3 linked regions of the Homo sapiens genome follow. The protein of the gene in region 2 purifies or fractionates together with the protein of the main gene of each other region. This does not show direct contact. Each region holds a gene or a part of one and is shown on either strand. Other genes may lie near its edges. The genes, in order: PUSL1, GCHFR and HBS1L.

Region 1 (3,747 bases), on a different chromosome or scaffold from region 2:
AGCCCCACCCCCTGGGGACGGCCCCAGAACAGAGCCTACCTGTCTATACAGGAAAGACTGGCTCTCAAACTCCAGGTTCCAGAACCGCAGCTTCCTGGAAAAATACGTACCTGTAGGTGTCTGTGGGGCAGTGTTTGCCATCCTCAGCCTACTATGTGGCCTTGGACGGGAGAGTGACAGGGTGGGCCTAAAGACGAGCCTGGTTCCCACTAGCTTGGCCACCAGGGGCCCTGGCTGATCTCCTGCCCCCAGTGAGGCCCATTGGAGGGGCTTAAAACCAGAGAAACAATGCTTGGGCAAGGAGGCAGCAGGACCCTGGAGGCTGGGCAGGTAGCCTGGCCATCCCAGAGGGGCTTGCCCTGGGCCCTCACCTAGGGTCCTGGTGCAGGGTCTGGGAACGTGGCTGGTGCGGGTGCCAGAGACCCCCAGTCCTGTACCTGCTGCTCTGCCACAGAAGTCTGGGGCTGGCAGAAGTTCTTCCCCCCTTCAGGGCTCACCCCAATAGGGGAGGTTCTGGTCAGAAGCTGCCACCTGGTGGGTGGCCCTCGGGACAGTGCTGGGGGCAGCAGAAACCACCCCACCAGAACCACTGGCACCAGTGAGACCTTTCCAGTAGCTGCCAACATTCTTCCATCAGGCATGGCAGGGGTTTTTCAGAGACAAGCAGCCTTCCCTGTTCTCCGCTCCCCAGCCTGGGGGGAGGGCACAGCTGGAGGCTGGGGGGCGTCCGGGCGAATCCCCTCCAGCTGTCCAGGTCCTGAGGACTCCCGGCTGCCTGCCTCCCGCCTCACCTTGCCTTAAAACTGGGGGAGGTGCTGGAGCTAAAATCAGCACGTGACTTGAGGGCAGGGCCACAGCCCAGGGGCCCTTCCTCACCTGCTCTCCTCGGGGGTGACCAAGGGGCTGGCTTGGCCTGGGGAAACGGAGACCCGGCGCAGCGTTCGCACGGGGCTCGGCACCGGGCTGCCAGCGGACTGGAAGGCGCTGAAGTCGTGTGTGCCGAGGAGGTGCTGGGCGGCTTCCTGCATGGCGACCATATCCAGGCAGCTTCAGGGACCAGGGTGACCGTCAGGAGGGTGGGGCCGGCCTGCCCGCCCCCTCCCCGCTGTCAGGGCCACACTCACTCTGCCGGGAGAGTCCAGCATAGGTTGCGTTCAAACACCGGCAGCTCATCACGCCGGTGACAGCCAGTGGCCAGGCGGTACAGGTAGGTCCGGGACGTGGCTGCGTGACGAGCGTGGAAGTCGCTGGGCACTCGGAAGGCCCGCAGGACCCTATGGCGGCAGGTAAAGCTCACCGGAGGAACGACCCCGCCCGCCCGCGGTGTCACATTGGCTCTCCTTCCCCCTCGAGCTCCGACCAGACAAGGAAGTCTGTCCAGATCTCCAGCCTCCGCCCGCGACAGATGGAGTCGGGAAGGCACAGCCCCAGGGCTGCTTAGGTCGCGGGCTCACCTGATGGCCGGGTGCCGCAGGTGTGTGTTGAGGGCCTCGGCCAGGACCTCGGGCGGGAAGGGCGGCCGGCCTGAGCGGCGCTGGACGTCCAGGTGCGCCGCGTTGCTCAGGGCGTGGACCCCGGCGTCCGTGCGGCTGGAGATGGTGAACCTGACCGGCTCCACGGAATTCAGCCGCTCGGCGGCCTCCTGCAGGACCGAGCCGCGGGGCGGGCGGGTGAGCGAGGCCGGACCCCGGGGACGCGCGGGCGGGAGCCTCCCCCTTACCCCTCACCGGGCGTCCCGTGACCGGCTGAGCGCACCTCCAGGTAGTTCTGGACCCCGACGGCGCGCTGAGTGCCCCTGACGGCCGCGACCCCGCTGCGGGCAGAAGCGGGCGGAGGTTACCGGGGGCGCCCTGCCCTGGGGTCTCCGCCGCCGTCTGAGGCCAGGGCCGCTTCCTTCCCCGAACGTTTGGAACCCGCGTCCAGAGACATCCGCCTGCCCGCCCGCGCCCTCCTTCCCGCCTCCGCCCGGGCCCACGTGGCGCCCGCCGCTGCGCCTGGGAAACCTACTTAAAGTCGGTGCCCACGTACTGGAAGTACACAAGATAGCGCGCGCGCACGGAGCCTGAGGCCGGCGCCGAACTCATGGCGGAGCCCAGCCGGTGGCGTCAGAGGCGGCCTCCAGCGCAGGAATCCTGCGCGCGCGCGGACGCGGCCTGGTCACGCCCCCCCCCCCTCCCCCCCGGCCCCGGCCGCTCTTGCGCCTGCGCGGTGGCACCGCGCCACGGCGGCCAGAGTCGGGGAGCGGAGGCGGGGCCGGGCTTAGGGAGCGGCTGCAAAGTGCCGGCCCGCCGCCGAGCGCAGGCGCTCTACCTCTATCGCGGCGCCCCGGGAGGCGCGCACCAACCACGCGGTCACCCCGCGCTCTCGCGGGCGTGCATTCGTTCACTCGCTCATTCATTCGCCGCCGCCCACACTCCCCGAGCGCGCCCGTTCGCCGCGTTGCGGCCAAGTCCTCCCAGACGTGGTTTTTGCAAACGCCCTGAGTTGCGCAACGGCCGGGATGGTTGGAGCGGGCGGGCCCGCGCCCTCCCCGCGCCCTCCCCGCGCCCCACATTTCCACCGACTGTCCCCGGAGACGGCCGTGGCAGGCCCCGCCTCACTTCCGGACCGGGGTGGTCCCTGGACGCTGCGAGAGGCGTTTGGCGACGCTCCCCGGCGGTGACAGCGGGCGGCGCGCGCGGGCGGCGGACCTTGGCGACGCTCCCCGGCAGTGACAGCGGGCGGTGCGCGCGGGCGGCTGACTTTGGCGACGCTCCCCGGCGGTGACAGGCGGGGCGGGGCGCGGCGCGGCGGCCTCATTCCGGGGCGGGCGGGCGCCGAGGCGGCGCGGGCGGGACGAGCGGTCCGGGCCGGCGCGGCTGCCGCTCGGCGCCGCGGTCCTCGTGCCAGTGAGCGCCGCGGCCGCCGCAGCCATGACCGTGGAGTTCGAGGAGTGCGTCAAGGACTCCCCGCGCTTCAGGTGCGCCGCCCGGGGCCGCCGGGGTGGGCGCAGGCCGGGGGCGTCGCTGTCGCCTTTGTGCCCGGCGGCGGGGTGGGGAGGTCAGCGCCGGGCCGGGCCGCGGCCGCCGGGGAGGGGCTGGAGGACCGGCCTCGGACAAAGCGGCGGCCCCGCCCCGCCATGCCCCGGGGGTTGGAACAAAAGACGCTCCTGCCCTGTGCGGCCGCCCCGGGTGGAGGGCGTGCGCGTGGGCAGCCGTGGGCACCTCGGGACCGTCCGCCCCCGCTCTGTGTCTGCACCTCCACTGGGCTGAGCCCCTCCCGGGCCCTGCAGTCCAGCTCTGGCCAGGGTCGTCTGGGTCCGTGGGGGCGTCGGCCCCTGGTCTCTGACTTGATCCTGTGTCCAGAGCAGCGCGTGGGGAACAGGCAGCTGGAGCCGCGTTTAAGGCCTGGGGTAGGGTGCTTGGAAACGTGAAGTGGTTTGAATGACCCAGGGGCTTGGAGGGGTGGCGGCCGAGAAGAGCGGCGGGGAAGGTCAGGTAGGGGGTAGGGGTTGTGTGCACACCGAGTCTGCATGTTTTCCATCATTCGTGGCGTGCAGGCGTGTACACCTGCGTGAACTACATGTTCACAGACGTGTGCACAAGTGTGCATCGGCTTTGCTTGGTGGACATTTGGCAAACGACAATGGAGGCAAAGAAACCTCTCTGCATCCCCAAGTGCGCACCTGCGTGAGGCCCCCTCCTCTGCACGAGCTCGTGCGGGGTGCGCTCTTGTGAACTTTGCCCCTCTGCGTGCCTCCCTCCGGAC
Region 2 (3,747 bases):
AGCCACCGCGCCCGGCCCTTTCGTCAGTTTTAACACATCCTTTGTTAAGCATGAATGTGTTTTATCTCTCTGGCTAACTTGTTAGGTCAGTGGGTAAGAGGGCAGGGGTAGGAACTACAGAATAATAAATTAGACCAGTTAAGGAACGTTTAGGATTACAACTTCCTGCTTCCCTTATAGCTCTCTCCACGTCTGTCAAAGTGTTGGAACGGCAGCATCCCCTATAAAGGCCCCTCTTAAAAAGTGAAGATTATTACCCTCCCATGGGAGGGAAGGCTACCTACAGGCTGTTTTTGTTTTGCTTTATTTTCTAGAAAACCAATCACAGGCCGGATGCGGTGGCTCACGCCTGTAATCCCAGCTCTTTGGGAGGCCAAGGCGGGTGGATCACCTGAGGTCGGGAGTTCGCCACCAGCCTGACCAAAATGGAGAAACGCCGTCTCTACTAAAAATACAAAATTAGCCGGGCGTCGTGGCGCAGGCCTGTAATCCCAGCTACTCAGGAGGCTGAGGCAGGATAATCGCTTGAACCTGGGAGGCGGAGATTGCGGTGAGCGGAGATCGCGCCATTGCGCTCCGGCCTGGACAATAAGAGCGAAACTCCATGTCCAAAAAAAAAAAAAAAAAAGAAAAGAAAAAAGAAAACCAATCACAACAAGGCAGATAAAGAAGGATGAGTTGTCAGATTTTGATAACTGCGGATGAGGGGCGTGGACACACGGTTGGGAACTCGCAGCCGCTCATTGGTGGCTGGTGCGGGGGAAGTTGTTTCATTTGCCCCAGGTGTTGCCCAGTGACCTCCTGCGCGTGCGCCGCGTCTGTCCAGCTGCGCGGGAAGCTCAGGGGAGGGAAGGCCAGGTTCCATCCATTCAGTCACTCCAGACCTGGCACCCAGCCAAGCGCGCGGTTCCTTTACAGACTTTCCTGCGGGTCCACAGAAATGCAAGGATCCGCCTCTGTGCTGGAATTAGAGTCTGGGAGGGGGAATGCACAGTGCGCCCTGGGTGGTATTTTAGTTGTCGCCTTCAGGGCTAGCTCCGAGCCTCGTGCCCCGGCCTCCTCAGCGCTTAAGGAATCTCTGGAGCGCATGTCTTGGCGAGGGGAAGTGGGGCCCCGTTGAAGCTGTCGAGGCGTCTCTGAGAGGGGTGGGCTGGGGCCTGGAGAGGCCTCCGTGAGGACGCCGTTTGCTCTGGGCTCTGCCTGGCAGGGGACTTTGGAACCTGGCCTGAAGTGTTCAAGAAGCGGGCGCGGGGGCAACACGCGCGCGGGGACGCAGTAAGATCACAGGCTGCAAAGAAAACAGCACTAAGCGTCCTGGAGGACGCTGGAGCTTCAGGATAGTGTCCTTCCAGGTCGTGGGACCGCCCCCTCCTCCCCGCACTCCACCTTCCCGCAACTGGATCACTCGGCGGAAGCCTCAGGTGGGCCCCGGGGTCCAAGTCCGCCGCCGGGAGGGCGGGGGCGGGCCCCGAACCGCCGACTGCAGGGCGCGTCACGGCAGCCGCTCCTGATTGGCGGCCACGGCGGTCACGGGCAAGGTGCCCCGGGATTGACGCCGCCTGTGGCCAGAGCCGGAGTAACGGGACTCCCAGCTGCGCGTCGCAGTCCCGACGCGAGAAGGGCTGGAGTCGGCGTCCAGCCTAGAGCCCCCGGTGGGAGCCAGGCCGGGACGCGTGCACCATGCCCTACCTGCTCATCAGCACCCAGATCCGCATGGTGAGTACCGGCCGCCTGGCGACTTGGAGCCGGGACCAGGCCCTAGGGGGCTGCGACTGCACCTTCATGCCTCCCTCCTGGGCTGCACCCACCGGGGACTGGACCGGGAACCCGCCCAGACACGCCCCCTTGGCCGGGGAGAGGGAGTGGAGAAGCGGGCTCAGCTCGGCTTCCGGGACTCAGCGAGCTCTGGCCGGCCTGAAGCCTTTATTGCCGCGAAGGGGCCCGGGTACGTGCGTCCCGGCAACAGGGCGACCTCCGGGCGCTTCCGGCTCCTGTCCTACCTGTCGGCGGGAGAGACCCAGGGAGCCCTGGCCTCACGCGCAGCACCTAGTGCCCTGCACAGAGCCGCTCCGCAGGGGAAAAAAGGGCGAATAACCTGAGAGAAAGAGGTTTGGAAAAGATAAGGACCTGCCAAGGCGCTAAAACCCCGGTGCCAAGTCCTTGACCCATAAACAGCAACTAGCTGCACCCTTAGGCACTTCCAGGAAGGGCTATCCCTGAAGCTTTAGGGAAGGAAGAAAAGAAAGAACACCCTGCTTGGAAAAAAGGAAGGCGAGAAGGGGCTGTGCAGTTAGAGGTGGGAACACCATGAGTTAGAAGTCACGTTCCTTTCTCTGGGCGCAGTTTCCTTATCTGTAAAAAGGTTCTGATTGCCCCTCAGGAGTCCCCTTTTAGCTTCAGAAAGACATGACGGGCAGCAAGGTGCTCTCTGCCCTTGCTCACTGCCCAGTGCTGGGGTGAACCAGCAAAGGGTACACAACCCCCTTGGTGGGTTCACCACGCAACAGAGAGCTCTTGCAGAGCCCTGGGCAGCGGTTTGTGAAGCAGCCATCTGCTCAGCTGCCAAAATGTGGATTCCTGGGTCCCTTCCCAGACCTCCTAAAACTCTGTCTGGGGCTTGGGAACCCATACTTGGAAATGGCCCCCCAAAGTGATTCTTATTTCTTAAAAGATATGGCTTTATTGATATGTAATGTGCATACCATAAATTCTTTGATTTAAAGTGTACAATTCAGTGTTGTTGTTTCTTTAGTGTACTCAGAGTTGTGCAACCATCACCATAATCAGTTTTAGAACATTTCTAATACCCCAAAAGGAAACCCTGTACCCACTGGCAGACACTCTTGATTTCCCCCAAGTCCCTCAGCCCTAGATAACCACTAATTACCTTTCTGTGGTAATGTGATCTGAGTCTGGCTTCTTTCATTTACATGTTTATTTTGTTTTGTTTTTTTGAAATGGAGTCTCACTCTGTCACCCAGGCTGGAGTGCAGTGGTGCAATCATGGCTCACTGCAGCCTCAAACTCCTCCCACCTCAAGCGATCCTCCCACCTCAGCCTCAGTAGCTGGAACTATAGGCTCGTGATACTTTGCCTGGCTAAAGCTGAGCTTTAAGGCACTAGGGAGGGCGCCTACATTGCTCCTCCTGATCATTGATGGGCTCCACCCCTTCACAGCTTGTGCTCAGCCCCTAAGAATCCTTGCTACTCTCTGTAGCCTTTACCTGAACCTTACTCAGGGCTAGCAGGCAGGGGAGGAAGGACAGGCAAGACCTTCCACCTCCTCCTGGCAGCCAGCCAAGCAGCCACTGTGGCTTACCTTGCAGGAGGTGGGCCCCACTATGGTGGGCGATGAACAGTCGGATCCAGAGCTGATGCAGCATCTGGGGGCTTCAAAGAGAAGAGCCTTGGGAAACAACTTGTAAGTAGCAGCCTCCCTCAGTATCCTCTCCCTGCCAGCCCCTAGACCTGCCTCTGCTCCCTTTATACAACCTCCAAGCCCAGGGACAGGGCCCAGCATCAGAGCCCCCTGCCTGCATCCTGGGGCTCTGTTCTCCGGAGGAGTTGGTCCCATCTGTAGCCTCTCCAACATCCCCCCTCTCCCCCACGAGGCTTGCTCTGAAAGCTTTCCACATCCTTACTGGAACCGCAGAAACAGAGTCCGTTCCCTGGGTCTAGGACTCCACTAGCAGACTGTTCCTTGCCCTGCCCTCTCCTAAGCTGGACCCCATCAAGGACAGACAGGCA
Region 3 (3,647 bases), on a different chromosome or scaffold from region 2:
GACAAACCTTTTAGATTATGTGTGTCCGATGTTTTCAAAGGTAAGTGCTACCTTTGTAGTGCTTCTTCAGTATAGCCCCTTTTCCCCATTCCCTCCTAACCTCCTTTCCTGGACTAAGTTATGACAGTATATTGCCTTCAGAGTCTCTCCTCTCCATGCCCAAGTAAGGATCACTGTCAGATTAATCTTAAAATGCACAGATTTAGTCACTTAGCTTCCCTGTCCAGGAAAACCTTCAGTTTACTCACCATTTCTCATCTTTCAAGCATAAGAAAACCTTGCCTTTTGTCTTTCTAACTTTATAGTTTTTTTTTCTCCCATTAGATTCCTTTAGTTTTCAAATCCTTCAACCAAACTGGATTGTTTATTGTTTCTTAACCACACAGGATGTGTTTATTGCCACATGTCTACCCGTGCTTCCCTGTTGTATTGTTCTTTCTCTTTACTTGTCCATTTCCTCCCCATCTGTAACAGTCTGGGTCCAGTTAGGAGTTAGATACCATACATAGGTGAAATGGGAAATGTAATATAAAGAATTATTAACTATGATAAAAATGCAACTAAAAGATATACAGAAACTTTATAGATAGGGCTGAGGAAGGACCAACGTAGAAGAGGTTCAGAGCTTGCTGGAAGAGATGATATATTAAATACCTAAGAATATATCTAACTTAATAAGGGCAAGATCCTATATAGAAGACTATAAAGTGGAAATACAATTTAAAAACTCAATAAATAAAAGGATATAAGATTTATTATTACAATAATAAAAACTGTAAGGATGTCATTTGTCCTCTAAATCTCCATTGTCACAGAGCCAGCAATGCAGAGTGAATGTGGAACTGAGCAGCAGTAAATTGGTAACCGGCGTGCTTACCTGCGCACATGCCCTGACGCGTCCCTCTGTATTCTCTGTATCCTCTGTCATTGTGCTTTCATGCAGCATTATAATTTTTTCTATGCTGTCTGTTTATCCCACTTAGATTATGAACTCCTTGAAGGCAAGTACTATCTCTTCTTTATCTATATCTGCGGCCCTAGCCCAGTGCCTGGCACATAATACATTTAACACATGAATAAAAAAATGAATGAATGAAGGTGCTTTGAAAAAATCATGCAATGAAATCAAAATTTATCATTATCATTATTAGCTTCCAGTGTTCTAGTAATAGAGGAAATATGCTAATAGTTTCCAAGATGCCCATTGTTTATCAAGAATACAAGAGGTGGTTACTTTTCTTTGATTAACAGTGTTTGCTGACTGTACTTTCTCACCTTCTGTTCCCCCTTCAGGCTGCTTCCTGGCTTCCGCCTACGCTGCTCTCCTGAGTGTGTTCCTCCTGAGGTCATGAAATGACCTCTTGGTTGCCAAAGTCAATATACACTTTCAATTCTATCTTACTTGAATTTGGCATTGGTTCTGATGCTGGTAGCCACATCCACCTTGAAACTCCTCCCTTGGTTTCTGTGACCTGCTTTCTCCTGTTAACCTGTCTATTTCTCTGACCTGTCTATCTCTGACCTCTCTATATCTTCTCTATGGGCTCCTCATTCTCTGTCTTTTAAACAGTGTTCTGCTGCCTCAGTCCTCTTCTTAGTCTTCAAGTTCCTTTTGAACTGACATCCATGAGTGTCTCTACCTTCTGCATCTTGATGCTTCCCAAATCTGTATCTCCAACCCAAACCTTTTCACTCATTCTCCACACACTTGTCTAAGCACTACTGGACATCTCTCCTGGGAGAGTGTTCTTTTAGGGGTACCATTCTCATGGAATGTGGTGTGATTGGTCCCCCCGGAATGCAACTTCTGCATGTGTGTGTCTCATAGACACTTCAGATTTACCAAGCCTAAAATGGATCTTGTCCTTAGTTTCATATCTCACAGTTAATGCATCATCATCTCACATTTTCCCCTTTCTGTCATTAGTCTTCACTTTCCTTACCACTCCAAACTTGTTATTCCTTATTCCCGAATTCTTGAGTTTATTCCCTTTCTGTAGTAAGTTTGTGCATTTGTATCAGCCTCTACTCTAAGACAGAAATACCATCACCTTACTTCTCCGGTCACAATATTTACTGGCTTCCTATTACTTAACTGCAGGATGAAATTTAAACCCTAAGCGTGATTTATGAGACCCCTTTATTATTTCTCCCTTGCCTATCTCTGTTGCCTCCTGTCTTACCTTTTCTTCATTATTCTATATGGTCCCCTCCCCATGGCCCCCACAAGTGACACATGACTCTTAGCCCATCCCACATTTGGTTATGCCTTTGCCCACACAGTTTCCTGGGGCAGCAGTGTCTTCCTTTTTCTCCCTACTCATGCATACAAGCTACCTAATAAACACTTATTCCTTCTTCAGAGTGCCAGATGTCTATTCTCACCATCATGGATTCTTTGGTGCACCTTTGTGTTTCTATTGTATATTTTACATATTATTTGTCTCAGGACAATGTAATTGTTTCCATCTTTCTCTTCACTAGTATAATATCTTTATGGGCAGGGACTTACATTTTTATTTTTTTTTATCCCCAGAGTTTAGTATAATATCTGGTACTACGTATTTATTATTTCTCAATAAATATTTGAGAAAGGAATGAACCTTTCTTTGGTAATATGAGTATTTTTATTTGCAAAAAAAAAAAGTAAAGTGTGGTATGCCATATTTAGTAGAGATGTTAATTCTGAAATGATTATTATTTAATGTCCATTGAACTACTAGTTTTATATGACTACTTGAGAACTAAGTATAGTTAACGGTATTAATCATCAGATAACATTGCTGTATGAACCATAAGATTTTGGTATGTTTTGCAGATCAAGGATCTGGATTTTGCATAACTGGTAAAATAGAAGCTGGTTATATCCAAACTGGTGACCGACTACTGGCAATGCCTCCTAATGAAACTTGTACCGTGAAAGGTATTTATCTGCAAGATGCTTTTGCTAAACAAGCCTTAAGTTGAGACAGCAGATTTTTAAAAAGTGGTTTAGTTACAACTCCAAAGTAAGTAACCTCTTACTGAAATTGTAACTGACTGTCAAAATGATACTGACTGTTGAAGATTAAAATGTGAAAACATTAAACGATTTTTTTCTGTTGTGATTGTGTCTGTATATATATGTACATAAACATTCTAACTGTAGTAGCATTCTATTTTTGACACAGATCTGAGAAGCCTGGTTAGGATTTAATCAGATATGTATAGATACCTCACAGATGTATTTGGAATAATATTCTGTAGCAGAAATTAAATCTAGTCCCAGCCTTACCCTAACTAGTCAGTGGCAAAGCAGCCTTCTACAGTCTGTTACTTTGAAATGTATGTTTCAGAATAACTATAAATTAACAGCTTTGATCATGTTTATGCCAAAAATGTAGGTATATTTTATAGGAAGATATAAGTAACATTCAAATGGAGAAAAACCCAATGTTGAAAAGAGAAATTGAACTAGTTTAAATTGCCAGTCACTGTTTCTGCATATAGATCTAATTTTTTTCATAATGACTGATAATTGTTTCTGTCTTCTAATATATACACACATATATATATTTATGTATATGTATACATGTTATATGTTACATGTACATGTATATTATTTTCCAGATTTTGACTAAAACTTTCTAATTCTATACCTCTTTTAT

Evidence for each region.
Region 1: the proteins of GCHFR (region 2) and PUSL1 purify together in Homo sapiens (affinity purification with mass spectrometry; 2 studies listed by BioGRID and IntAct, with this or other methods). This does not show direct contact.
Region 3: the proteins of GCHFR (region 2) and HBS1L purify together in Homo sapiens (affinity purification with mass spectrometry; 2 studies listed by BioGRID and IntAct, with this or other methods). This does not show direct contact.

Annotation. Positions count from the first base shown.
Region 1 is NC_000001.11:1,306,981-1,310,727, reverse strand, and holds the start of PUSL1 (tRNA pseudouridine synthase-like 1), read right to left. Parts: upstream 2,132-3,747; 5' UTR 2,085-2,131; coding exon 2,008-2,084; intron 1,814-2,007; coding exon 1,756-1,813; intron 1,643-1,755; coding exon 1,455-1,642; intron 1,275-1,454; coding exon 1,125-1,274; intron 1,048-1,124; coding exon 877-1,047; intron 95-876; coding exon 40-94; intron 1-39. Other genes in the region: ACAP3 (arf-GAP with coiled-coil, ANK repeat and PH domain-containing protein 3), read left to right, coding at 2,913-2,959.
Region 2 is NC_000015.10:40,762,501-40,766,247, forward strand, and holds the start of GCHFR (GTP cyclohydrolase 1 feedback regulatory protein), read left to right. Parts: upstream 1-1,567; 5' UTR 1,568-1,680; coding exon 1,681-1,716; intron 1,717-2,660; exon of another isoform or gene 2,661-3,326; coding exon 3,327-3,421; exon of another isoform or gene 3,422-3,747. UniProt on the Homo sapiens protein: Mediates tetrahydrobiopterin inhibition of GTP cyclohydrolase 1. This inhibition is reversed by L-phenylalanine.
Region 3 is NC_000006.12:134,981,734-134,985,380, reverse strand, and holds part of HBS1L (HBS1-like protein), read left to right. Parts: coding exon 1-40; intron 41-2,818; coding exon 2,819-2,923; intron 2,924-3,647. UniProt on the Homo sapiens protein: GTPase component of the Pelota-HBS1L complex, a complex that recognizes stalled ribosomes and triggers the No-Go Decay (NGD) pathway.